5 separate regions of the Homo sapiens genome follow, and regions 1, 2, 4 and 5 are each linked to region 3. The links come from fine-mapping of genetic effects on gene expression. A gene starts in region 3. Each other region holds a variant in brackets. All regions are shown on one strand. Distances are between the middles of the regions.

Evidence for each region. PIP is the estimated chance that this variant, and not a neighbour inherited with it, causes the effect.
Region 1: its variant is fine-mapped to the expression of PPP1CC in transverse colon (GTEx, PIP above 0.99).
Region 2: its variant is fine-mapped to the expression of PPP1CC in whole blood (INTERVAL, PIP above 0.99).
Region 4: its variant is fine-mapped to the expression of PPP1CC in whole blood (INTERVAL, PIP above 0.99).
Region 5: its variant is fine-mapped to the expression of PPP1CC in whole blood (INTERVAL, PIP 0.97).

The regions. Positions count from the first base shown.
Region 1 is chr12:110,815,655-110,820,758 of GRCh38, reverse strand. No RefSeq gene overlaps it. Among named protein-coding and RNA genes, the nearest start is that of CCDC63, 29 kb to the left of the region's middle. The variant G/A (reference allele first, on the strand shown) is at 2,094.
Region 2 is chr12:110,065,910-110,071,013 of GRCh38, reverse strand. It overlaps a transcript of C12orf76 not described here. Among named protein-coding and RNA genes, the nearest start is that of C12orf76, 20 kb to the right of the region's middle. RefSeq lists an enhancer at 4,982-5,061. The variant GCCTTCT/T (reference allele first, on the strand shown) is at 2,681.
Region 3 is chr12:110,740,459-110,745,562 of GRCh38, reverse strand. PPP1CC (protein phosphatase 1 catalytic subunit gamma) reads left to right here and starts at 2,672. Exons shown (of 7, transcript NM_002710.4): 1 at 2,672-2,910. The coding sequence starts at 2,856. RefSeq lists enhancers at 1,093-1,677, 2,439-2,947 and silencers at 2,442-2,581, 2,742-2,801.
Region 4 is chr12:110,874,393-110,879,496 of GRCh38, reverse strand. The region is part of intron 5 of CCDC63 (coiled-coil domain containing 63); the gene reads right to left. Among named protein-coding and RNA genes, the nearest start is that of CCDC63, 30 kb to the right of the region's middle. The variant G/TG (reference allele first, on the strand shown) is at 2,618.
Region 5 is chr12:110,825,685-110,830,788 of GRCh38, reverse strand. No RefSeq gene overlaps it. Among named protein-coding and RNA genes, the nearest start is that of CCDC63, 19 kb to the left of the region's middle. RefSeq lists an enhancer at 3,801-3,870 and a silencer at 4,051-4,100. The variant G/AAG (reference allele first, on the strand shown) is at 2,539.

The DNA.
Region 1 (5,104 bases), 75 kb before region 3:
GGGAAGGGGAGGGGAGAGAGGGAAGAAGAAGAAAGAGGAAGAAGAAGAAGAAGGAGGGGACTGGGGAGAGGGGAGGAGGAGGGGGAGGGAGGGAGAGGGGGAAAGGAAGGGGAGAGGAGAGGGAGAAGAAGAAAGAAGAAGAGGAGGGGGAGAGGAGGAGGGAGGGGGAAGGAGGGGGAAAGGGAAGGGGAGGGGAACGGGGAGAAGAAGAAGAAGGAGAAGTAGAAGGAGAAGAAGAAGGAGGAGGAGGAGGAGGAAAAAGGAAGAATAAAGAAGGAAGAAGCTTATTTCTTTCTTAACTAGGCCTGGTTATGGTGGTCAATGGTATCCTCCCAGCCAGATGCACCTCCATTCAGGGCACTCCTACGTCGCAGTTCAAGATGGTGGCCTTCAAGTTCCAGATGCCAGAATAAAAGAAGGGATGAAGAAGCAGTGACCTCTTAGAGAGAGTGTTTCAGAACCACTGCGGGACTCTTCCCCCGACATCCTTAGCCCATACCAGAGTCCCATGGCCACACTTACCCACAAAGGAGGCTGGGAATTCTGGACAGCCATGTTCCCTAGTAAAATTGGATTTCTTTTACTTTGAAAGAGGGAAAAAAATGGATGTTGGGAACATGGAGCAGTCTTTGCCACAGTTCTGTAGGCCTCGGTGTCCTCTTCTGTGATCTGTGGGTAACAATAGTTTCACCTCACAAGGTCGTTGCAAGAATGAATTGAGTTAATGGGTATAAAGAGCTTACTAAGTGGGCAGTGAATATTAGTAATTATGATGATGATTAGTAGAACATCTTGACAGCAAATTAGCAGGAGGAAAAAGAAGTCACTGTTTTCTGTGCCAAGGAAGGGTGTGACCAGGTGAAATCGGGCTCGTTGATTTGGTAAATGTGGGCACCTCCCTAATGACAGGGAACCGCCCAGAGAAAACATTCAAGACCAGCTTTAATGCCCAGAGAGCAGTCAAAGGTAAATTCGTATCTCCCTTTGTATCCAAGAATCGAGTCAATGTCCTCAGGGACAATTTGTGCTGCTAAGGGAGCCAAAGGTGGCCCTTGAATTAACTCACACAATTCATTTGCTTCTCAAATCTTGTTCCCAGGGCCTGGGTGAAGCAGGCCCTGGGCTCCCTTGATAGTAAGTGGGGCTGGGGAGTGAGTGGTTGCTGTCAGTTGAAGGGACCACAGGACAGGGCTGGAATCTTGAGTCTTTCCAGGGGGTGTCTGGTGCTCTCGTCCACTGAACTTGGACAGAAAATCCTCTTCTTAGGAGCAGACAAAATTTTTCTTGGGAGAGAAAAAAAGTTTTTTGTTATCATCTTTTCTGATTTCAAGATTAGCAATTTGTCTAGCAAAATCCCAACAAACTAACATGTATCCAACAGGCCTTGTGAGAGGGATGTGAACCAGAGCAACTCCATCTTGAATAGGGGCTGAGTAAAATGAGGCTGAGACCTACCGGGCTGCATTCCTAGATGGTTAAGGTATTCTAAGTCACAGGATGAGATAGGAGGTAGGCAGATACAGGTCATAAAGACCTGGCTGATAAAACAGTTTGCAATAAAGAAGCCGGCTAAAACCCACCAAAACCAAGATGGCAACAAGACTTGACCTCTGGTCGTCCTCACTGCTACGCTCCCACCAGCATCATGACAGTTTATAAATGCCATGACAATGTCAGGAAGTTACCGTATATGATCTAAAAAGGGGAGGCATGAATAATCCACCCCTTGTTTAGCATATCATCAAGAAATAACCATAAAAATAGGGCCACTAACAGCCCTCAGGGCTGCTCTGTCTATGGAGTAGCCATTCTTTTATCCCTTACTTTCCTAATAAACTTGCTTTCACTTTACTCTATGGACTCACTCGACTTCTTTCTTCCGAGAGATCCAAGAACCCTCTCTTGGAGTCTGGATCGGGACCCCTTTCCAGTAACAGCCTCAGGAGCGTCCTGGAATTCCACTGGGGGTTTCTCAAGATGTAGTGTGCACCAGGGCCTTGTTAAAAATGCAGGTGTCACCATGAGTTGCTAATCATTGACATGAACAATGGGTGTACAAAGGTTAATTATAATATTCTGAGCCAAGGAAGGTG[G/A]CTCATGCCTATAATTCCAGCAGTTTGGGAAGCTGAGGCAAGAGGATCTCTTGAGCCTAGGAATTCAAGAACAGCCCTGGCAACATAGCAAGACCCCGTCTCTACAAAAGAAATTAGAAAATTAGCTGGGTGCAGTAGTGCACACCCATAGTCTGAGCTACTCAGGTGGCTGAGGTGGGAGGATCCCATGAGCCCAGGTGTTTGAGGTGACTGAGCCATGATCGTGCCACTGCACTCCAGCCTAGGTAAAAGAGGGAGACCATGTCTCAAGAAAATAAAAAAATAGGCCAGGTGCAGTGGCTCATGCCTGTAATCCCAGCACTTTGGAAGGCCAAGGCAGATGGAGCACTTGAGGTCAGGAGTTCAAGACCAGCCTGGCCAACATGGTTAAACCCCATCTCTACTAAAAATACAAAAAATTAGTGGAGCATGGTGGCACATGCCTGCAGTCCCAGCTACTCGGGAGGCTGAGACAGGAGGATCACTTGAATCTAGGAGGCAGAGGTTGCAGTGAGCTGAGATGGTGCCACTGTACTCCAGCCTGGGCGACAGAGCAAGACTCTGTCTTAAAAGAAAAGAAACAAAATAAAAAATTGTGGCCGGGCATGGTGGCTCATGCCAGCACTTTGGGAGGCCGTGTTTTTTAACATTTTATAAGCATTTTATAAGCATTAATTCATTTAATTCTCACAATAACCCTATGAGATAGGTACTATTATTAATCCTATTTTACAGATATGGAAAGTGCTAGAAATGGAAAAAATAGGAGGATAAAAACAAACACCTGGCCGGGCGCGGTGGCTCACGCCTGTAATCCCAGCACTTTGGGAGGCCAAGGCGGGCAGATCATGAGGTCAGGAGATCTAGACCATCCTTGCTAACACTGTGAAACCCCATCTCTACTAAAAATACAAAGAATTAGCCGGGCGTGGTGGTGGGCGCCTGTAGTGGGTGGCTCATCCCAGCACTTTGGGAGGCCGAGGCGGGTGGATCACAAGGTCGGGAGATCGAGACCACCCTGGCTAACACGGTGAAACCCCGTCTCTACTAAAAATACAAAAACAAAAGTTAGCCAGGTGTGGTGGCGGGCGCCTGTAGTCCCAGCTACTCGGGAGGCTGAGGCAGGAGAATGGCGTGAACCTGGGAGGCGGAGCTTGGAGTGAGCCGAGATCGCGCCACTGCACTGCAGCCTGGGCGACAGAGCGAGACTCCATCTCAATTTAGAAAAAAAGGTAACATTCTCTCTACTTTCATGTATGTTCAACATTTTCTATAACAAAAGGTTTTTAATTTAAAAAAATATATTTAATACAGGTAGCAGAACCCAGCCCCAAAAACTTCTCAATCTGTAGCTCAGGGTGGAAAAGGAATCTTTTCATGCCCACTTGTTTCAACACAGTTAGAAAAAAACACTTAGATTGGATTCATTACGTACTAGATCTGTTGGAAGTGCTTTATAAATAGGAAGATAATCTCATACCTGCATGTCATTATTGCACCATTTTACAGATGAGGAAACTGAGGCATACATAGGTGAAGTGATTTGCCCTCTTCTCACAGCTAGCAAGTGGCAAGGCTAGGATATGAACCCAGGCAGCCAGGCTCAGAAACGAAGTTCCACCCTCTATCTCCTCTGCCTCTTACAGTTCTGTGAGCAACCTCTATTGACATTCTAACTAGCTCCTTTCAGACTTTTTAAAACTCTCTTGTTTTCACATTCATCTATATCTGCATAAAGATTGTAGGAAGAACAGGCTGGGCACAGTCCAGCCTCTGGTCCTTTGTTCCTCTGGTCCTTTTGTTACTTGGGCTTGGAAAGTTGGGACTTTCCTTTTGATTTAGTTCTAGGAAGTCAGCATGAACTGACCTTAGTTTCCCTGCCTGCAGACGCTATTCTCCTGCCTCAGTGTCAGCAACGAATTCCTAGTGGATTTTACCTGGCTATCTCAGGTATCCCAGAATATCCCAGAGCATCCCAGGAAGAAGCACCTCCTTGAGTTTAAAATACTCACATACCATCCACCTCCCCATCCCAGTCACTGTCTAACCCTCTTCCCCTGCTTTGCTTGTTTCCATTGCTGTTATTTTTCTCTGCTATTATATATTCATTTGTTATTGTTTACTTACCTGCTGTCTGTCACTCCCTGTAGCACATGAGCTTCATGATGGCAGGGACCTTGTCTCCTGTTTTCCTTGCTACAGTACAGCCCTGGCACCTTGCCCAGCAACTGACACACACTAGGTGCTCAATAAAGCACTGAGTGCGTGTGTGAGTCAATGAGAAGTTGGGATATGAGGACAGCTTATGTCTGTGAGCTGGGCCCAGGCTGGCCCTCCCAGAGATGATGTTTCACAAAGGTCTCAGCTCAATCCTGAAATATAAAGACTCAGAATTCTCAAGGCCAGATGGTGTTAACCGCCTTCTGAAAGTGTCTGAAGGCCAGGCAGAGTCAGGGAGAGGTCTCCATTTGGCTGCAGAGGACAAAGAAGTAAAATAATTCAGCAGAGACCAGCTCAGTTGCACCAGATGAGATCCAGGCAGCAAGGGAAGGAGGGAATTCGCCAAAGATGCTCCATTTCCTCAGTCACACACACATGGGTTGTCCAACAGGTGAGATGACAATGATGATGATGATGATAGCTAACATTAATGTAATGAAATATTTACCAGATGCTGCTCTGAGCTCTTTAATACATTCATTCATTTAACCCTCACAACATTACCTCTGAGGCAGGTAATGTGGTTATCCCCATCTTACAGAAGGATAAGTTAAGGCACAGAGCGGTTAGGGAACTTGCCAGAGTGACAAGGCTTGGAAGTAGCTGAGCAGGAATTGGACCAGGTGACCCTGGGCATGTGTCAGAGCAAAACATCTCACTGTCACCTACCACCCACCCAAAAATGCCCCAAACGTTTCAGGTCCCAAAACCAGGGCCAGGCTGACACAATACTGCCCTCTTGTATCATGAATTCCCATTCAGACCACATATTTGCCTTCATGCTGCAGAGG
Region 2 (5,104 bases), 670 kb after region 3:
CACCTAAGGTCAGGAGTTTGAGACCAGCCTGGCCAACATGGTGGAACTCCGTCTTTACTAAAAATACAAAAGCTAGTTGGGCGGGGTAGTGTGTGTCTATAATTCCAGCTACTCGGTAAGCTGAGGCACAAGAATTGCTTGAATCTGGGAGGTGGAGGTTGCAGTGAGCTGAGATCATGCCACTTCATTCCAGCCTGAATGACAGAGCAAGACTCCATCTCAAAAACAAAAACAAAAACAAAACAAAACATGCTGAAATCGAAAACAAGACATATTACTTAGAGCAGCTATCATAGGACCAATGGAAAAGAGCATAATTAGTAAATGCCCCCTTCTGCATTAATACAGGGATTACATGTCATAATTCCATGTAGCAGGTGATGGGACTTCCTGACATTCCTGGGCCCAGCATACAATTTCTTTCTTTCTTACTTTTTTCTCTAAAAAGTGAGAGAGGGTCACACTATGTCACTAGGCTGGAGTGCAGTGGCGTGATCACAGCTCACTGCAGCCTCAACTTCTCAGGCTCATGTGATCCTCCTGCCTCATCCTCCCAAGTAGCTGGGACCATAGGCACATGCCATGACGCCTGGCTAATTTTTTATTGTTTTTGTAGAGACAGGGCTTTCCTTATGTTGCCCAGGCTGGTCTCAAACTCCTGGCCTCAGGCAATCCTCCTATCTTGGCCTCCCAAAGTGCTGGGATTATAGGTGTGAACCACCGTTCCTGACCTACAATTTCTTTTCTTTTCTTTTTCTTTTTCTTTTTTTTTTTTTGAAATGGGGTCTTACTCTGTCACCTAGGCTGGAGTGCAATGGCATGATCTTGGCTCACTGCAAGCTCTGCTTCCCAGGTTCAAGCAGTCTTCCCACCTCAACCTCCTGAGTAGCTGGAACCACCACGCCCAGCTAATTTTTTTGTATTTTTGGTAGAGACAGGGTTTCACCGTGTTGTCCAGGCTGGTCTTGAACTCCTGAGCTCAAGCAGTCCATCCATCTTGGCCTCCCAAAGTGCTGGGATTACAGTGTGAGCCACCATGCCCAGCCCACAATTTTTTAAAAGCAGATCATTGTATATATAAAAACATTACTATGAGAACACCTTATAATGATGAATATTTTTCTTTCACATGATGAAATCATAACTTACATGTATTTAACTCCCTCAAATTCAGTTATACATGTTCCATGGGGACATGGAGAGAGAGAATAATATAACTAGTACAATTATTCAGCAACTGGGTTCCCTGGAGTAAGTGTGAAATGGGATACTTGCATCTGGGGGTTCCCTCCATCATTCTCTGTTCTCATGTGCTTCTCACAGAGTGAGCATCTTGCTGCTCTGCCTTTAAATCTAGGTACATAATTTTCAGCCACATGACCCCTAAAATAAGCCAATTCCTTCACCTTCACCTGGAGCAAAACTGTAATAACAGCAACTTGTTCCGGAGCTAGAAATTGGCTCCAGTGGACCCACTGGGAAGAAGGAGTTGTTTGCTGTGCTATGTGGACAATTTAAGGGTTTAAAAGGCAATTTTGATAAGCCATGGGTTTTTTTGTTTGTTTGTTTGTTTTGAGACGGAGTCTCGCTGTGTCACCCAGGCTGGAGTGCGATGGTGTGATCTCGGCTCATTGCAAGCTCCGCCTCCCGGGTTCCGGCCATTCTCCTGTCTCAGCCTCCCGGGTAGCTGGGACTACAGGCGCCCGCCACCATGTCCCGCTAATTTTTTGTATTTTTAGTAGAGACAGGGTTTCACCATGATAGCCAGGATGGTCACGATCTCCTGACCTCGTGATCCGCCCGCCTTGGCCTCCCAAAATGCTGGGATTACAGGCGTGAGGCACCGTGCCTGGCGATGAGCCATGATTTTTATCTGAAGTGCCGTCTTTAGAAGATAACCTCCATGTAAAACGTTTCTCCACAGTTTATATTTTAAAATATAAAATTGAAGAAAAAACTATTGCCAGTTTGCTTTTTTCCTCTTTGTTAATGGACTATCTACTATCATCTCACCAAATGGAGTCTCACAGTACACAGCTTGGGAAATGCTGCCTTAAGTTGCAGTGTGAAGCCTTAAGTTTATGTAACCATGACTTAGCCATCTGTGTAGCGGGTATACCAATGGGGTGTAGGGATTGGCGGAAGTAGTTTGCACCAAGTAGTACTGGTGTGGACCATAGGTGGCAATCCAGACAGGCTAGAGCAATGTTCAGGTTACAGTAGCAAGTGGCAGGTTTTGGCCAGCTGTCCCTACTGGGGCTGGAAGGATAAAGAGCCAGAATAAGGAGACAGGGCCTCAGTTACTGAAACTGGGATAGAAACTGGGGACTGGTTATGGGGGAAATTAAACAAGAACCTGTCCAGCTTCTTCTATTCTCACAACTAAGTTCAGATCTGGAGTCAGAGGCAGGGATGCAGCTACAAGAGGAGTTAGCGTTGCAGGTTTATGTAGATAGGATGCTAAGCAGGTCTATGTTAGCCAGGATTGTTTGCGCAGTAAGTGACAGAAACCCAGCTTACGTTAACCACAAAGCCTCAAAGGGGAATTTATTGAATCATGTAACTGGGCAGTTGAAGAGATTGTGCTGTCCTTGGACATGGATGAAGATAAGGGTTCACACTATGTCATCAGGTAGGTTCTCTCTCCCTACGTCTTGGTTCCATTTGCTTCTATTTGGCC[GCCTTCT/T]TCTTCTTCTTCTTCTTCTTCTTCTTCTTCTTCTTCTTCTTCTTCTTCTTCTTCTTCTTCTTCTTCTTCTTCTTCTTCTTTCTTCTTCTTCTTCTCTTCTCCTTCTCCTTCTTCTTCTTTTTTGAGACGGAGTTTCCCTCTTGTTGCCTAGGCTGGAGTGCAATGGCGCGATCTTGGCTCGCCACAACCTCTGCCTCCCGGGTTCAAACGATTCTCCTGCCTCAGCCTCCTGAGTAGCTGGCATGCCCCACTACGCCCAGCTAATTTTTTGTATTTTTAGTAGAGACAGGGTTTAACCATGTTGGTCAGGCTGGTCTCAAACTCCCGACCTCAGGTGATCCGCCTGCCTCAGCCTCCCAAAGTGCTGGGATTACAGGCGTGAGCCACCGCACCCGGCCTTTGGCTTCCTTCTTGAACAGCTCTCTATGTAGCATGAAATCCTTACATTCTCTTCTTAGCAACCTCAGAGGAGCCAACAAGTCTTTCCTGATGCTCTGTTAGGAAAGTCCCGGGAAAGACTCTGATTGGTTGGGTGTGAATTACATATCCATCCCTGAACCAATCACCGCCTGGGCCAAGGTGTCATCCCATTGGCCAGTCTGGGTCATGTGCTGGTTCCTGTGGCAGGAAATAGGGAGAAGATGACTGAGCCGGCCGGGTGCAGTGGCTCACCCCTGTAATCCCAATACTTTGAGAGGCCGAGGTGGGTGGATCACCTGAGGTCTGGAGTTCGAGAAGATGACGGAGCAGTGTGAGCCCTACTGAACCACATCCAGTGGATTTTCCTTAGGAAGGAAGATCCTGTTACCAGACAAAATGGGAAAAGGAAGTGAGGAGGGTAGGCAGACAAAATACAGTGATCTGTTACAAGGTCTTCCCAAAAGCCAGAAATTCCAGGGATTTCTGAAGTCTACTTCTCTAGTCCTGGCTTGTCTGGGCTGTGGAGACTCTATCTAGGTAATTGTTGAGCTCCTATTCTTACCTTGGTTCCTTCCTCAGTCCCACCAGAAGACCTGCTCATTTGGGATGTGCGACTTGGCCCACAGAGGCTGCCAGCTCACCTTGGTACTTAACTACTATTTGTTTTCTGTGACCACCAAGCTATTGCTTAAACCAAGCCGCTTACGATGGCACCACCTAGGAGAATTCTTTAGATTTTATTCCGAGTGAGTTGAGAAGCCATGGGAAGATTGTAAGCAAAGGAATAAAAGATGGTTGCATTCTCTTGGGAAGATTTCCCTCTTCCCTGGAGAACAGTCCTCACAGAAGCTTTTCCAATGGCCACAGACTAGGGAAGGTTGAGAGAGGGACAGGAGAACAAACTCCACTCACAGGTGCTGCTTCTCCTCTGCCCAGTTAGCCTCCACTGGGGCCAATAGTGAGCCTGTGTTCTCATTCGTGGTCCCAGGCTGGCCGTCGCCATGGAGATGGTGTTGCTGTACCAGTTCGTGGCTATTAAAATGGAGCTCCTGGCTGGACACCTATTTCCCAGTGGGTGGCCACACACCTGTGGGTCTGGGCCTCCTCCAGCTGAATAGAAGTGAGCCCAGCACGGAGGTCGGGGAGGCACCAGACACCAGGAGGAGCAAATCCAACTCAAGCGTGGCCCCTCTGCTCCCGATTTTTTTTTTCTTTTTTTGAGACAGAGTTTTGCTCTTGTTGCCCAGGCTGAAGTGAAATGGCGCGATCTTGGCTCACGGCAACCTCCGCCTCCCGGGTTCAAGCGATTCTCTTGCTTCAGCCTCCCGAGTTAGCTGGGATTACAGGCATGCGCCACCACGCCCTACTAATTTTGTATTTTTAGTAGAGATGGGGTTTCTCCATGTTGGTCAGGCTGGTCTCAAACTCCCGACCTCAGGTGATCTGCTGGCCTCGGCCTCCCAAAGTGCTGGGATTACAGGCGTGAGCCACCGCGCCCAGCCGTTTTTTTTTTTTTTTTTTTTTTTTTTTTTTTTTTTTTAGATGGAGTCTTGCTTTGTCACCTAGGCTGGAGTGCAGTGACATGATCTTGGCTCACTGCAACCCCTGCCCCCTGGATTCACGTGATTCTGCCTCAGCCTCCCGAGTAGATGGGACTACAGGCGTGTGCCACCACACCAGGCTAATTTTTGTAATTTTAGTAGAGATAGGGCTTCGCCATGTTGGCCAGGCTGGTCTTGAACTCCTGGCCTCAAGTGATCCGCCTGCCTCGGCCTCCCAAATTGTGAGCTACCGCGCCCGGCCTGCCCCTGACCATCTTCGGGGAAATAGAAACATGAGGTCTGCCACATTCTCATCCCACCCTTGACACCTAGGTGATGTGAGAGCTTGAGGGGGAGGTCAGAAGGTCAGAGATGACCCAGTTCTGGAGGTGACCCCATAGAAGGAGAAGAATCCAGCCACGTGATACACGGGACCAAGAGAACAGTAAATGCAAAG
Region 3 (5,104 bases):
TCCCTTTAGGCACTGGGATCCCCCCTCAAAGCCTAAGTATCCTCAGAGACACTATTGAGTTTCCAATATTTGGCCACAGCCACTCTCTTCTAATCATCAGCTCCCCATCATCTTCAGCAGCCCCTAAGAAAGCTCTGTAGAGCCAGGAAAGACAGTTTGAAAAGTGCACTTTAATCCACTCTCCTCATTTGACAGATAGGCAAACTGAGGCCTAGAGAGGGGAAGGGACATTCCATTTATTAGGCTGTATCCTTTCTGACAGGATGCTTATATCAACTCATCTTTGGAAAGCCACTGGTGCTGATAATGGCAGAAAAAGGCGAATAGGGAATCAGTGCTTTCCTCCACCGGCTATTTGCTGGTTCCTGGGAGCTGTGAGGGCCCACCCTGGTGAGCTATGCCATGCTCAGGCTCAGAGCCAGCTAATCACTTAGGCATGTGCCAGCAGAACTGAACTCTGGAGGGGAGTTGCCCAGCAGAAAACAACCTGGGGACAGAGGCTCTCCCCATGTCCCAGCTCAGTCTGAAGTCCTCCTCCAGCCCTGATGATGTTGCAAGAGGTTAACACACCTGCCATTTTGCATGAGGAAAATTATGGCACTCGTATTGTGGGCAGAGACACAATTCAGTCATTCCACTGGGTTCCAAATTGATATGTGCCCAGTATGTGCCAGGGATGTGAACACTGCTGGGGGTTCACTGCCGGGTTTTACTGAATATGAACGAGGGCTGTGGTTTCAGGCTGTCCTGAGTTCCAGCCCTGACTCTGTAACTTCCTGGCTGTGTGACCTTCAGCAACCACCCTAGCCTCTCTGTGCCTCACTTTCTTCATCTGTAAATGGGGATGATAGGAATAGGACATAATTCCTAGGATTATCTTGGGGATTCAATGAGATCATTTTTTGGCACATACTAAGAAATGAACACAGTAGCATTTTTTTTCTTGTTTATTTTTCTCCACTGCACTTATCAGAAGCTGATATTTTTATTTGCATCTTTGCTTACCATCTGACTGACTAAATGACTCTCCATAGAAAAAAGCCTTGTCTGTCTTGATCACCCCTGCTTCCCTGTCTAGAACAATGCCTGGCACAGAGTGGGTACTCCATAAATATTTGTCTGCTGAATGAATTGCTGTCTTTCATATTTCTACCCTAAATGCCATTCCGATGATGCACCCTGCCCTGGAGTAGCCCAAAGTCCTGTGGACTCCAGCAAGAGCCCCCCCTGACCTCCATAGCCAGATGTTCACAGCAGCGCTGGGCACCAACTCCGAATGTCACCAACTGGGCTCATTGCCTTGGCCTGACAAATGGCACTTATGTGACTTCTGGTGGACAGAGCTGTAGCAGGGGAAAGTGAGTTAGTGCCTGAGGAAAGTGGATCGATAGGCTGAGTTCTGAAACTCAAGGGCCCTGCACCAGTAGCGAGGGGGCCCAAGTAAGGGGACATGGAGCCCGCACCCTGAGGACATTGCTTTGGAAGAGGATGCCTGGGTGGTGCAATTACCTCGTGGCATACTGAGATGGGGATTCGTGCATCCTGCACGCCTTGGGAAACAAAATGAATTTCTCGGAGAGAGGGGGCTTTGCAAAATGTAAAGCGCTGCAGGAAGCAACGTACATGGAAAGGTCAGGAAAGAGAGCCGATCTGTTTGCTGAGTGTGGGCTGTACTTCCAAACCCAGCCAAAGTCGACGCGCAGCCCCTGGAGGTGGCACAGTTTGGGGGCCCCTTGGATAGGAGTGCCCTCGGGGAGGCTGGGAAGCCAGAGAGGAATGGGCCAAAGTTTCTTCGGGTGTCTGCAGAACCCAGGACCGCCCGCGCAGCTTGCATCTTCTCTTCCCGCCCCCGGCCTGCACGCGTGAAATCTGCAAATTCCCCTTTTAACTGCTGCACGCGCTCGTTCAACTTTGCCCTGGCTAGAATCGGGATAACCGTCCCGATGATTACATAACTTTCCGAGTTCAGGGAAGATAAATCCAAGGGACAGAAATGATAAAATTTTCTTTGAGTATGGATTTTTTACCCCTAAAGTTACAGAAGTGCACAAAAAATATATATACAAATACCCATATACCCACCACTCACAATGAGTTAACTGTTACATTTTGACTTATCTGAAAGAGGGTTTTTTCTTTTTAGTTACCAAATAAACCTTTCTCTTGTCCCAAGTTCCAGTATATCTGAATCCAAAATAAGTCAACCTTCTTTTCTTTATTATTCTTTTCCATCCTCACCCCAGATTTATCTTAAAGGGTAAGTTCCAGGACCCCCGAAATCCCTCGGTGAGCTCCCACCTGTCCAGGTCTGCAAACATCTAGACTCAATGCACAAGATCCGGCGATGGCCGCAACCGGCGGTGTGCACAGCTGCATTTCCTCCCCCAGCCCCAACTCCCGCGTGCAACTTTGCAACTCTCGCTCGGGCCCGGCATTGGGGGCGGGCCTATTTACTCGGCCCGTTTGGCGGAAGGATCCCATGCGGGGACGCGGTTGCGCTCAGCCATCTGCGCCCCGCCCAGCGCCCGGGCCCCGCCCCCTCCAGCGCCCGGGCCCCGCCCCCTCCCGCGCCCCCTATGGCCCATAAAGAAGTCCCGGCCGGGCCGCTGCACTCCCCGCGCGCATCCGTGCGCCGCCCGAGGCTGTCTAAGGAGTCGGCGGCCATTTTGTTCTTCTCGTGGTTCCAGTGGGGAGAGAAGGAGGAAGTAGGGAGCGGGGTGGCAGGGGGGGGACCCGCCGCGGCTGCTGCCACCGCCGCCACCACCGCCTCTGCTCGTGGCGTGGGAAAGGAGGTGTGAGTCCCGGGCGCGAGCCGGCGGCGGCGCCGCTGCGGGAGGGTCGGCGGTGGGAAGGCGATGGCGGATTTAGATAAACTCAACATCGACAGCATTATCCAACGGCTGCTGGAAGGTAAGGGGGGCGGCGGGCGGCTGAAGGGGGAGGCGGGCCTGAGGGCGGCAGGCGGCCCCGGGGGCTCGAGGGAGGGGAGTTGGGAGGCCGGTTGGGCTTGCAGCACCGTGGGGAGTGAGCTCCTCGAGTTGGCCCACGGGCCGGGGACTGCAGCCGGAGGGAGGCCAGCCCGGGATTCCCAACTTGTCGCCAGCTGCGGACCCTCCAGGCTCCGCTCATTCATTGCACGAGGATGCAGGCTTCCTCCCGGCCGTGGAATTTGAAAACTCCGCTCCCCACCCCCACGTTTCCCGCCCCTACCCGTTTGCCCCCGCGCACTGGACGGGTCTTTGGAGCGATGGTTGGGGATCCCAGTCCAGCCTCCTGGACGACGTGTGCCGTGCTGTGCGAGATGGACTTTTCGGTGCTCGTCCTCTCGGAAGGCAGTTTGATGAGGGCATGAGTTCCGCCGGGTTTGGGGGCTCTTTTCCTGCTTGCTTTTATTTTTATTTTTCGTGGTTCTGGGGTCTTGGGGGGCCCATTTCTTGTTACTTGGTAACAAGCGTTCATGTCTCAAGAGGTGTGAGAACCTGTCTTCGCCTGCCCTCCAAATCCTTTTAAGTTGTTCTAATCTTGGAGAGGTCTCCGCGCTCTTTTCCTGAGCGTGCATCTGAAGAGGAAGCCAACGAGGCTGACGCTATCATTATCTTTCCAATGTGCCAGGCTCTGTCTTAAGCACTTTGCGTCCATGAATTATTACTGTAATCATAACTGACGCTTCTAAAGCGCTTACTGTGTGTCAGGCATTCTTTGAGCACTTAAGACAGATTTCATTTAATTCTCCCACCCATTGCAAGATATTTGCAATTTTTTTTGTTTTTGTTATTTTACAGAAGAAACTGAGATGAAGTCACTTAACCAAGGTCACACAGTTAGTGACAGTTGGATTTCAAATCCACATAGCCGGGAGCTAGAACCCTCTACAGACAACACTGTCACCTTATGTAGGAAGGAAGGTGGCCAGTGGTTAAGTAAAGGTTAATAGAAAGCTTTAAATTTCGGCTCATCTAAGACTTGTGAGGTGCCTGGCAATTGATTCATGTTGATGTGGGAGAGGGGCGAGGTTCAGCTTTTAAAGACGGAAGCTGAAATGAGCTGCTTTCAGATTCAAGGGCATGTCAACGGATGCTAACATCTTATCCAAGACTTTGTAAGAATTCAGTCATATCCCCTAACTTGGACACTTCATAATGGGAACTTGGCAGTTTCAACTGCTTTTTGCCTTTATACAGTCCTAAAATATTGTTGGACTATAAATGCTGTGAGTGGTGGAGTCGAGGGCATGAACAGTTGGACAGCTCTGGTGTTAGAATTTACAGATCTTTTAAAGTAAGTTATTAAAATGAAGCTCCTGAAAATATCTCGTCCTTTTCTTAATCTGTGCATTCTTTCCTTTTATGCTGTCTTTAAAAAAAAAACAACAAAAAAAACACTAAATGTCATTAAGGACCCCTGAAATGCTCTTGAAATGTTATTGCAGGTGAAAACCTTGTATTGTAGGTGAAAACCTTGTCATTCTTTTAATGCCAGGTATTTATATAAGAACCATACTTTTTCATACTAGTTAATATAGTTCTTTAATTTATTCGAGGCAGCAGTTGGTCAGAAACTGATTAAAATAGTTTGCTGTAAGAAAGGAACTTTTTGTTAAATATTTTCTTTCTAAATTTTAAAATTCTGCTTATCTCTGCAGGGATATGTGTGGCTTTATTTCTCTGAGGAAACAGGAAAAGTTGGAATTTGCATGGATTAGAAACATTAGAATTTTAAGATCATCTAAGGCTTGCTAATTTAAGTTCTGGTTTGCCCATAACTGCCTCTATTCATAAACAGCTTTTGTTAATTTTGATCTTTAAAATTGTAATAAGTACTTTGCCTGGTAAGTAATGATACATCTAAAATGAGATCATTGTTTCTTAATAGTTCCTCTTGTTATGTGGCACTTGAAAACCAGGTTTTCTTATATTTCATTTTTTGCTGAAATTAATAAAGCAGTGCATTTTAATGCCTTGGGAATAGGCTAACTGCAAAGTATACTTAAATTTCTTTTTTTCTCGTGGGTGTTAAATTGGCAGAGAAACAGTTGAAGATGATCCATTGAGGATATGTAGATATCTAAGTTAAATGATGTTGGTAATAAATTCTGTTTTACAAT
Region 4 (5,104 bases), 130 kb before region 3:
CTGTTTTCATGCAGGGTTTCTCAAACTCAGCACTACTGGCATTTTGGGCTGGATGATTCTTTGCTATAGGGGGCTGTCCTATGCTTTGTGGGATATTAAATACCCACTACATGCAGGTAGCACCCTCACCTCCAACTCTGTTATGACAACCAACAGTGTCTCCTTTTGGGGACAACGTCCCTTTGGAGGCAAAATCACCCTCAATTGAGAGCCACTGTTCTAGATTAAAGAAATTTAAGAGACCTAACAATTATGTGAACCTTGACTGGATCTACCTTTAAAAGACATTTTAGGGCCAACCAGGTACGTGTTAATATGGACTAGGTATTGTGTAATATTATGGAAATATTATTCATTTTGTAGGGTGTAATACTGGTCTTATGACTGTGAAAGAAAAAGTTTAATTTTAAAATATGCAAACTGAAGTATTTAGGGGTGAAATGTCGTGACACTTGTAATTCACCTTTAAATACTTCAGGGGAAAAATGGTGAAGCAAATAAAGCAAATGTTAACAGTTATTAAATCAAAGTGATAGATTTGCTCATTATTTTATTCCCTCTACTTTCCTGTATGTCTTATAAATTGTCTTAGCTTTTTTAAAAGTTGTTTTTTAAAGGCGATGTGATTGGTTACACTGTTCATGGGAATGTAGATTGGTGCAGCCATTATGGAATAAAAGGATGAAGGTTTCTAAAGAAGTTAAAAATAGAACTACCATATGACCCAGCAATCCCTCTCCTGGGCATACACCCAAAGGAAATAAAATCACCACCTCGTAAGGGCATCTGCAGTCTCACATTCACTGCAGCATTATTCACAACAGCCAAGATTTGGAAACAACCTAAGTATTCACTGACAGATGAATGGATGAAGAAAGTGGGGGCTGGGCACAGTGGCTCACACCTGTAATCCCAGCACTTTGGGAGGCCAAGGCGGGTGGATCACCTGAGGTCAGGAGTTCAAGACCAGCCTGGCCAACATGGTGAAACCCCGTCTCAACTAAAAATACAAAAATTAGCCAGGCATGATGGCAGGTGTCTGTAATCCCAGCTACTCAGGAGGCTGAGGCAAGAGAATCATTTGAACCTGGGAGGCAGAGGTTTCAGTGAGCCGAGATCACGCCACTGCACTCCAGCCTGGGCAACAGAGTGAGACTTTGTTTCAAAAACAAGAAATTGGGGTGTGTGAGTGTGTATATATATGCACATACTTATATGTGTGTATATATGTATGTGTATATGTATGTATACATGTGTGTATACATATATGCATATAGGTATATATATGTATGTATATGTGGATACATATGTGTGTGTGTGCATATATATACACAATAAAATATTACTGAGCCTTAAAAAAGGAGACTCTGCCATTTGCCACAACATGGATGAAACTGGAGGACATTACGCTAAGTGAAATAAGCCAGACGCAGAATGAAAAATATTGCATGATCTCATTTATATGTGGACTCTAAACAAAAAAAAGTCAAGGCTGGGCGCAGTGGCTCATGCCTGTAATCCCAGCACTTTGGGAGGCTGAGGCGGGTGGATCACCTGAGATCAGGAGTTCGAGACCAGTCTGGCCAACATGGTGAAACCCCATCTCTACTAAAAATACAAAAATTAGCCAGGCATGTTGGTGGGCACCTGTAATCCCCAGCTACTTGGTAGGCTGAGTCAGGAGAATCGCTTGAACCTGGGAGGCAGAGGTTGAAGTGAGCCGAGATTACGCCACTGCACCCTAGCCTGGGTGACAGCATGAGACTCAGTCTCAAAAAAAAAAAAAAAGAAAGAAAGAAAGTCAAATATACAGAGATAGAGAATAAAACAGTGGTTACCAGGGCAGAGGGGGTGAGGGGGAAAGGGAGCAGGGAGATGGAGGTCAGAGGATAGCAAGTAGCAGATATGGAGAATGAGCAAGTCTAGAGCCCTAAGGTACAACATCAGGACTCCAGGGACTCTAATTGTACTGTATTTGGGGCTAGGCGCAGTGGCTCATGCCTGTAATCACAACACTTCGGGAGGCCAAGATGGGTGGATCACCTGAGTGAGGTCAGGCGTTTGAGACCAGCCTGACCAACATGGTGAAACCCTGTCTCTACTAAAAATACAAAAAATTAGCTGGGTGTGGTGGCGCACACCTGTAGTCCCAGCTACTCGGGAGGCTGAGGCAGGAGGATTGCTTGAACCTGGGAGGTGAAGGTTGTAGTGAGCCAAGATCGTGCCATTGCACTCCAGCCTGGGGGACAGAGCCAGACTCCGTCTCAAAAAAAAAAAAAAAAATTGTACTGTATTTGGGATTCCTGCTAATGTGCAGATTTTAGAGGTTCTTGTCACAAAAACAAAAATGGGTAACTATGTGAGATAACAGATATGTTAACTTGCTTCACTATTGTAACCACTTTAATATCTACATGTATCAAATAATATATTATATACCTTAAATATACACAGTAGAATTTATTTTTTATTTTTATGAAACAGGGTCTCGCTCTGTCAACCAGGCTGGAATAAAATGGTGCAATCACAGGCTCAAGTGATCCTCCCACCTCAGCCTACCGAGCAGCTAGGACTACAGGTGCAGGCCACAACACTCAGCTATTTTTTTTTTTTTTTT[G/TG]TATTTTTAGTAGAGACAGAGTTTCACCATGTTGCCCAGGCTGGTCTCAAACTCCTGGCCTCAAATGATCCTCCCACCTCAGCCTCCCAAAGTGCTTGGATTATAGATGTGAGCCACCACATCTGGTTTATTTTTTTTTAATAAAATTATTTTTTAAGTTTTTTTAAAAGACCACGTAAAGTGCTCCCATAAGCACTGAAAAGAGACAACTACAAAAAAATATTCCTAACAGCAAGGGGATTTAATTTCACTGGAGGTTTTCAAAGTATGTTCTAAGAAACATTCGGTTTCTGCAGGGCCAACACTGGGGTAAAGCAAGTGAAGCAACCGGGGCATGAAATGTAAGGAGGCACTCACTCTCAGGTGCCAGCCCTGTGTTTCCACAAGCCTGAGCAGAAGAGCCTCCTAAAATGTTGCATCCTGGGCTTTTTGCTTGCTTCTGCTAGTCTGAGCTCTGGGTGTTCCTGAGTGTCTCCATAGCCACCACACAAGGTAGGGGAGTCCCTGGGAGCAGAGCATTCTTATTCTATCTTTGCATCCTCCACTTCCTCTTGGGAAGTTATCAGTTACCACTCATTTGCTCCTTACTGTGAATTTTGCTCCAGGACCGTAGCATACTATCTATCCTCTGATTGTGGGGGGGAAAGACCTGACCTATGGGGAGGACTCTCAGGCCCCACTGAGTAGGTGGAGGATATTTAGGACCATGGGGTACTCTGAGACCCCAAAATTGCCTTTAGAGATGGCTGCCTAACCTTTTTTTTTTTTTTTTTTGAGACAGGTTCTCACTCTGTCATCCAGACTGGAGTACAGTGGCACAATCTCGGCTCACTGCAAACTCCGCCTCCTAGATTCAAGCAATTCTCCTGCCTCAGCCTCCAAAATAGCTGGGATTACAGGCATGCATCACCATGCCTGGCTAATTTTTATTTTTATTTTTTTGTATTTTTAGTAGAGGCAGGGTTTCACCATGGTGGCCAGGCTGACCTCAAACTCCTGACCTCAAGTGATCCACACACCCTGGCCTCCCAAAGTGCTGGGATTACAGGCGTGAGCCACCGCGCCAGGTCAGCTGCTTAACCTATTAAAAGGCACAATCACATCTCGTTAGGGATGAAGGGAAGAGGGGACCAGTTTGAGATACAAAAAACAGACCTCTCAGAAATATAAAAAGGAGCATTACTACAGATCTTATGGAAAAAGTATAAGGGATATACTAGGAACAACTATATACCAACAGATTAGCATAATTTAGATGAAATAGACCAATTCCTAGAAAGACATAAACTACTGAAATTGACTCGAGAAGAATAGAACATCTGAATAGACTTAGAACAAAAAAGCAGACCTCTGAGGCTGCAGTGAGCCACGATCGTGCCACTGCACTCCAGCCTAGGTGACAGAGTGAGACTCCGTCTCAAAAAAAAAAAAAATTATACCTATAGACAAGTCATCATTAAATCATGCATGCATTTAGTAACTCATTCAATCAACAGACATTTGCTGAGGCATTAAACACCATGCCAGGCATTAAATCTATGATTCTTAACCAATGGGACCTTCAGTCTCTCTGGGTTTGCTAATAACGGTGCAGATGCCCAAATCTAAGCCCTGGAGGTTCTGATTTGGTGAATCTGGAGGAAATCCAAAAATCTGTATTTTTAACCCATATCCTAGGAATTCTGAGGCACAGTTGCAAATCACTGGGCATGGATATTAAAAAGACACTGCCCAGTCCTTCAGCAGCAACTTGGGGAGGCAGACAGAGATCAGATCCAATTAGCTCCCACCATGCCTGCTCAAAGCCTGGTGGTCAAAGTCTGGGGGAAGCTAAGAGCTTTGTTTAGTGAAGGAATGACAGGCTTTCTTCCAAATCCATTCACTTTCTCTCTCTAGTAGCTCATGTGGGAGCTACAGTTTCACAAACCAGACTGGAATGTGTGGTTTGTCCCTGTCCATCATTCCTTCTCCACTCTTTTTGCTTTTCCAGGGGAACCACCTCTCCTCTAATCCACTTATTTTGAATAGGGCTGCCCTTCCCTGACTTGGGGTAGCAGTGGGTGGGTTTGGAGGAGAGGGGCCCCAGGGTAGCCATGTGACTCAGGCCCATGTATTTCATTCTTCTGACCACCCACCCTGATTGGTTCAGAAATGGGCACATGACCCAAGCTGGCCCAGTGGGAACTCTCCCCAGAATACGTCATTAAACTCTTAGGAAAAAGATGTTTCATTTCTACTAGCATTCGTTCACACTGGGGGCTACCCAAAAATGAAATCCACTCAGAGGAGAGGTGGACAGAGAATATGTCCTAAAGACATGTATGGAGCACCTGGATCCAGCTATGCCTGAAGGCCCCACTTCCTCCTCTGGATCTTTCAATTCTATGACTAACACATTCCCCTTTTTTTCTTAAGCCAGATTGCAATTTAAGGAACCCTGCTTAATGCAAAAGTCACTGTAGATTGAGGATGATCAGTGTCACCTTT
Region 5 (5,104 bases), 85 kb before region 3:
ACCACGCCCAGCCCAGCACTCATTATGTGACATCTTTGTACCTCAGTTTCCCCATCTGTAGAATGGGAGTAATAACCATATCTACGTCATAACGTTTTGTTAATATTTAACATATTAAGGTGTTTTGGAACTGCCTGAGTGTTTGGCATTAATAGGATTATGAAAATTTGGATTTCCAGATTCACTTTCCTCGAAAGATTAGAAGATCTGGCAACAAAAAGGGTTACATTCTTATTTACCTAATTTATTTAGCAAATGTTATAAATAATGCCTTTTTTCTTTGAAACAGGGTCTCACTCTGTCACCAGGCTGGCATGTGGTGGCGTGATCACAGCTCACTGTAGCCTTGAACTTCCAGGCTCAGGTTATCTTCCCTCCTCAGCTTCCTGAGTACCTTGGACCACAGGCATGCGCCACCATGCCCGGCTAATTTTTTTTTTTTTTTTTTTTAAGTAGAGACAGTGTCTCCCTAGGTTACCAGGCTGGTCCCGAACTCCTGAGCTCAAGTGATCCTCCCACCTCGGCCTCCCAAAGTGCTGGATTATGGGTGCGAGCCACCCCGCCTGGCATATAATACTTTTTACTATGCACCACACACTGTTCTAAGCACTTGCAGAACTTTCACCCACTCAGCCCTCAGAACAACTCTGTGAGATGGGTTCTGTTTTTTTTGTTTGTTTTTGAGTGGGTGTCACTCTGTCACCCAGGCTAGAGTGCAATGGCATGATCTCGGCTCACTGCAACCTCCGCCTCCCGGGTTCAAACGATTTTGCTGCCTCAGCCACCCAAGTAGCTGGGATTACAGATGTATACCACCACGCCTGGCTAATTTTTTTTTTTTTTTTTTTTTTTTTGTATTTTAAGTAGAGACAGGGTTTCACCATGTTGGCCAGGCCAGTCTTGAACTTCTGACCTCAGGTGATCCACCCATCTCAGCCTCCTAAAGAGCTGGGATTACAGGTGTGAGCCACTGCACCCGGCCAAGATGGGTTCTGCTATTGTTCAGTTTTACAGATGAGAAAACTGAGGCACAAGGAGGTGAAGTGACTTGTCCAGTGTCACACGACGAGTAAAGGGCAGAACCAGGATCTGAACCCCAAATGTCTGACTCTAGGCATGACGGTCAGCTAGCACTGGGTCTTAATTAACCCCTCGAGGAGGGCATGGACTCCCCACTTCGCCCCAGCTCCCGCCCCAATTTCCTATTTCCATTCCTCCCAGGCCCCTTTGAGCTCTGTGTTTTCTTCCCTCACATACTGGGTGCTCAAGCACAATGACAGCCTTGCCAAAAGATACCCAGGGAACACGCTTCAGGTCACGCTGGCCCCGGAGCTGGGAATTTAGCCTGAGGTCTAAATCCAACTTTCATTTTCTGAGTCCCACGCTTTCTCAAAAAGCCATCCTCTCCTCAGACAGAATTAGATTAATCTCCTTATCCAATAGCTCAGGATCAGGCGGACAGTCGGGTCACCTGCTTCAGCCCGGCCAGACCTGATTACCCTCTGTGACCCCAAAATTCACTCATGCGCACCTGCCCCTGACACGTTTGCTGATTAATAACGGCAGGGAGTTTGGGGATGGTGCGTTTTTCACCTTCTGGGAGCATCAGTGGCTTGAACACAAAGGCCACCTGAGGAAGAGCTGTAGTTAAACACCCATGGCCTCAGCCCTTGGCCCCCTCCCCCCAGCCACCCACCCTGCCCAGAATCTGTGCCCTTTTAAACTTCCACCAAATTCCATACAATTTAATGTCCCAGAAAATAAAAGCTGATCAAATCAATAGTCATCAAACTAAAAAAACTTGAGAGCTGCCAGCATGTTCTGAAATTATTCTGTTTGGGCTGGGCGTGGTGGCTCATGCCCGTAATCCCAGCACTTTGAAAGGCCAAGGTGGGTGGATCACTTGCGGTCAGGATTTCGAGACCAGCCTGGCCAACATAATGAAACCCCATCTCTACTAAAAATACAAAAATTGGCCAGGCACGGTGGCTCACACCTTAATCCCAGCACTTTGGGAGGCCGAGGCAGGTGGATCGCTTGAGGTCAGAAGTTTGAGACCAGCCTGGCCAACATGGTGAAATCCCATCTCTAATAAAAATACAACAATTAGCCAGGCATGGTGGTGCGTGCCTGTAATCCCAGCTACTTGGGAGGCTGAGGCAGGAGAATTGCTTGAACCTGGGAGGCGGAGGTTGCAGTGAGCAGAGACCGTGCCACTGCACTTCAGCCTGGGCAACAGAGTGAGACTCCATCTCAAAAAACAAAACAAAACAAAACACAAAAATTAGCCAGGCATGGTGGGCACCTGTAGTCCCAGCTACTCGGAAGGCTGAGACAGGAGAATCACTTGAACCCGGGAGGCGGAGGTTGCAGTTAGCCAAGATCATGCCATTGCACTCCAGCCTGGGCGACAGAACAAGACTCCGTCTCAAAAAAAGAAAGAAAGAAAGAGAGAGAGAGAGAAAGAAAGAAAAAAAAGAAAGAAAGAAAGAGAAAGAAAGAAAGAAAGAAAGAAAGAAAGAAAGAAAGAAAAGAAAA[G/AAG]AAAAGAAAAGAAAAGAAAAGAAAAGAAAAAAGAAAAGAAAAGAAAAGAAAAGAAAAGAAAAAAGGAAAAGGAAAAGGAAAGAAAAGAAAAGAAAAGAAAAATTATCCTGTTCAGGGCTGTGTAAGGACCCGCTGTTGTCTTTTTCCGCCTTCTTGTAAGAGCACATCAATTTCCCTCTGGAGGGTCATTCCATCTCCCGGCGCTCAGTCCATGAGGTTGTGGAGGCTGCCCCGCGCTGTCAGATGCAGGTAGCTATTCCTCTATTGAGAGCTCCTATCAGGGAGCCCCTCTCTCACAGCTTCTGATCTCAGACTCCAGAACAGTCTTTCCCCTGCACTTGCCAGTCCCAGGCACTTCGCCATCCCTGCTGGCTCTCCCCATCCTGCCCACACACTCGCTTGTCACTCCCATGTGACTGTCTCCAGGGGACCCTAACTGATACATCTGGAGACCCAGCAGTCCTTTTGGGAGCTGAGCACGCCTCCCACCACTCCCTACATTGTTTGCCCGGCTCCCTTTACTTCTTTGCCTCTGGGCCAAGGCCTCCTGGGCTTTTCCCTTTTATTGAAAATGCCCTGGGGGCCAGCGTGGTGGTTCACACCTGTAATCCCAACACTTTGGGAGGCTGAGGTGGGTGGATCACTTGAGGTCAGGAGTTCGAGACCAGCCTGGCCAACATGGTGAAACCCCGTCTCTACTAAAAATACAAAAATTAGCTGGGCATGGTGGCATGCACCTGTAGTCCCAGCTACTCTGAAGGCTGAGGCAGGAGAATCGCTTGAACCAGAGAGGTGGAGGTTGCAGTGAGCTGAGATCCTGCTAACTGCACTCTAGCCTGGGCGACAGAATGAGACTTCGTCTTAAAAAAAATTATTTTTAATTTAAAAAGTTTAAAAAAGAAAGAAAGAAAGAAAATGCTCCGGGGAGGGCTGTCACCTCTCTCTCTTAGGATTTCCCCTCTCACACTTAACTTCAAGTGGGGGCAATCTCCCAGCAAGCCTCCTCCTCACTGTTCTGATTTTTACGCTCAGCCCTCCCTGCCCGAGTGGCCACCACACTCAAGGGAGTGTCCTAGAGATTTTTGCAGGCGTGAGCTCATTTGTTGCACACTCTTGTGGGAAGAGCCACGTGAGGAGGTTACACAGCTGAAGCGGTCTCCCGACATTCAAGCAGTCACGGATGCTGAACTGTTGCAGATGTGGTAAATTGGTAGTAGGCAGGAGGGCATGCTGGTTATAGGCTTGGGCGGTGGAGGCAGACAGACCTGATCTCAAATCCCACCTCTGCGATGTGACTCGGGCAAGTGGTTTAACCTCTCCCGGCCTCTGTTTCATGATCCAGTCTGCCATGTTGCACAATTCCAGGAAACGCCATTCATGTTGGTGCACCAGGGGGCGCCACTTACACAGACAATACAGTGAACGCCATCCCCAGGGTCCTGTAAGGCGGTGGTGCTGACAACACTGCCTCCCTCAGTCAGGGCTCCACATGTCAAGAGTAGGCACTCAGCAATCATCCCAATAGCCTTCTCCTCATTTTACAAAAGAGGAAACTGAGGTTCAGAGAGGTCACATGATATGCCCCAGGTCACAGGTCAAATAAATGACTGAGCCAGAATTTGAATACAAAATTTCTTTCACGCTGGGCAAGGATGGCTTATGCCTGTAATCCCAGCACTTTGGGATGTCGAGGTGGGAGGATTGCTTGAGCCCAGGAGTTCAAGACCAGCCTGGGAAACATAGTGAGACCCCATCTCTACAAAAAATTTTAAAAATTAGCTGGGTGTGGTGGCACACACCTGTGGTCCCAGCTATTCAGGAGGCTGAGGTGGGAGAATCACTTGAGCCCAGGAAATTGAGGCTGCAGTGAACCATGATCACTGACACTGCACTCCAGCTTGGGTGACAGAGTAAGACCCTGTCTCTAAAGACAAAAAAACAGGCCGGGTGTGGTGGCTCATGCCTGTAATCCCAGCATTTTGGGAGGCCAAGGCAGGCAGATCACTTGAGGTCAGGTGTTCAAGACCAGCCTGGCCAACATGGTAAAACCCTGTCTCTGCTAAAAATACAAAAATTAGCCCAGCATAGTGGCACATGCCTGTAATCCCAGCTACTCGGGAGGCTGAGACAGGAGAATTGCTTGGACCTGGGGCGTGGAGGCTGCAGTGAGCTGATATCACACCACTGCACTCCAGCCTGGGTGACAGAGTGAGACTCTGTCTTAAAAAAAAAAAAAAAAGAAAGAAAAGAAAAGAAAAAGAAACAAACAAAAAATCAAAAATTTTATTTAATCCAGGGCCTGTGCACTCTCTAGCCTGCTGTTCTATCTCCAGAGATCTTCAGTTTGGGTGGATGCAACACCACACACATCTTCACAGCCACAGTCCATCCCTTCCCTCTCAGAGCACCTCTGCCATCACCAAAGAGTTTTCCTTGAACTGTAAGTTGTTGTCTCTCCCTCCCTCTTTTCCCTCTGGTATTTCCAATTCCAGGCATGGCAAATATTTAGTTCCCCATGGCTGATCCCACGGCAGACATTACTAAACAGTCCCGGCACTCTTTCCAC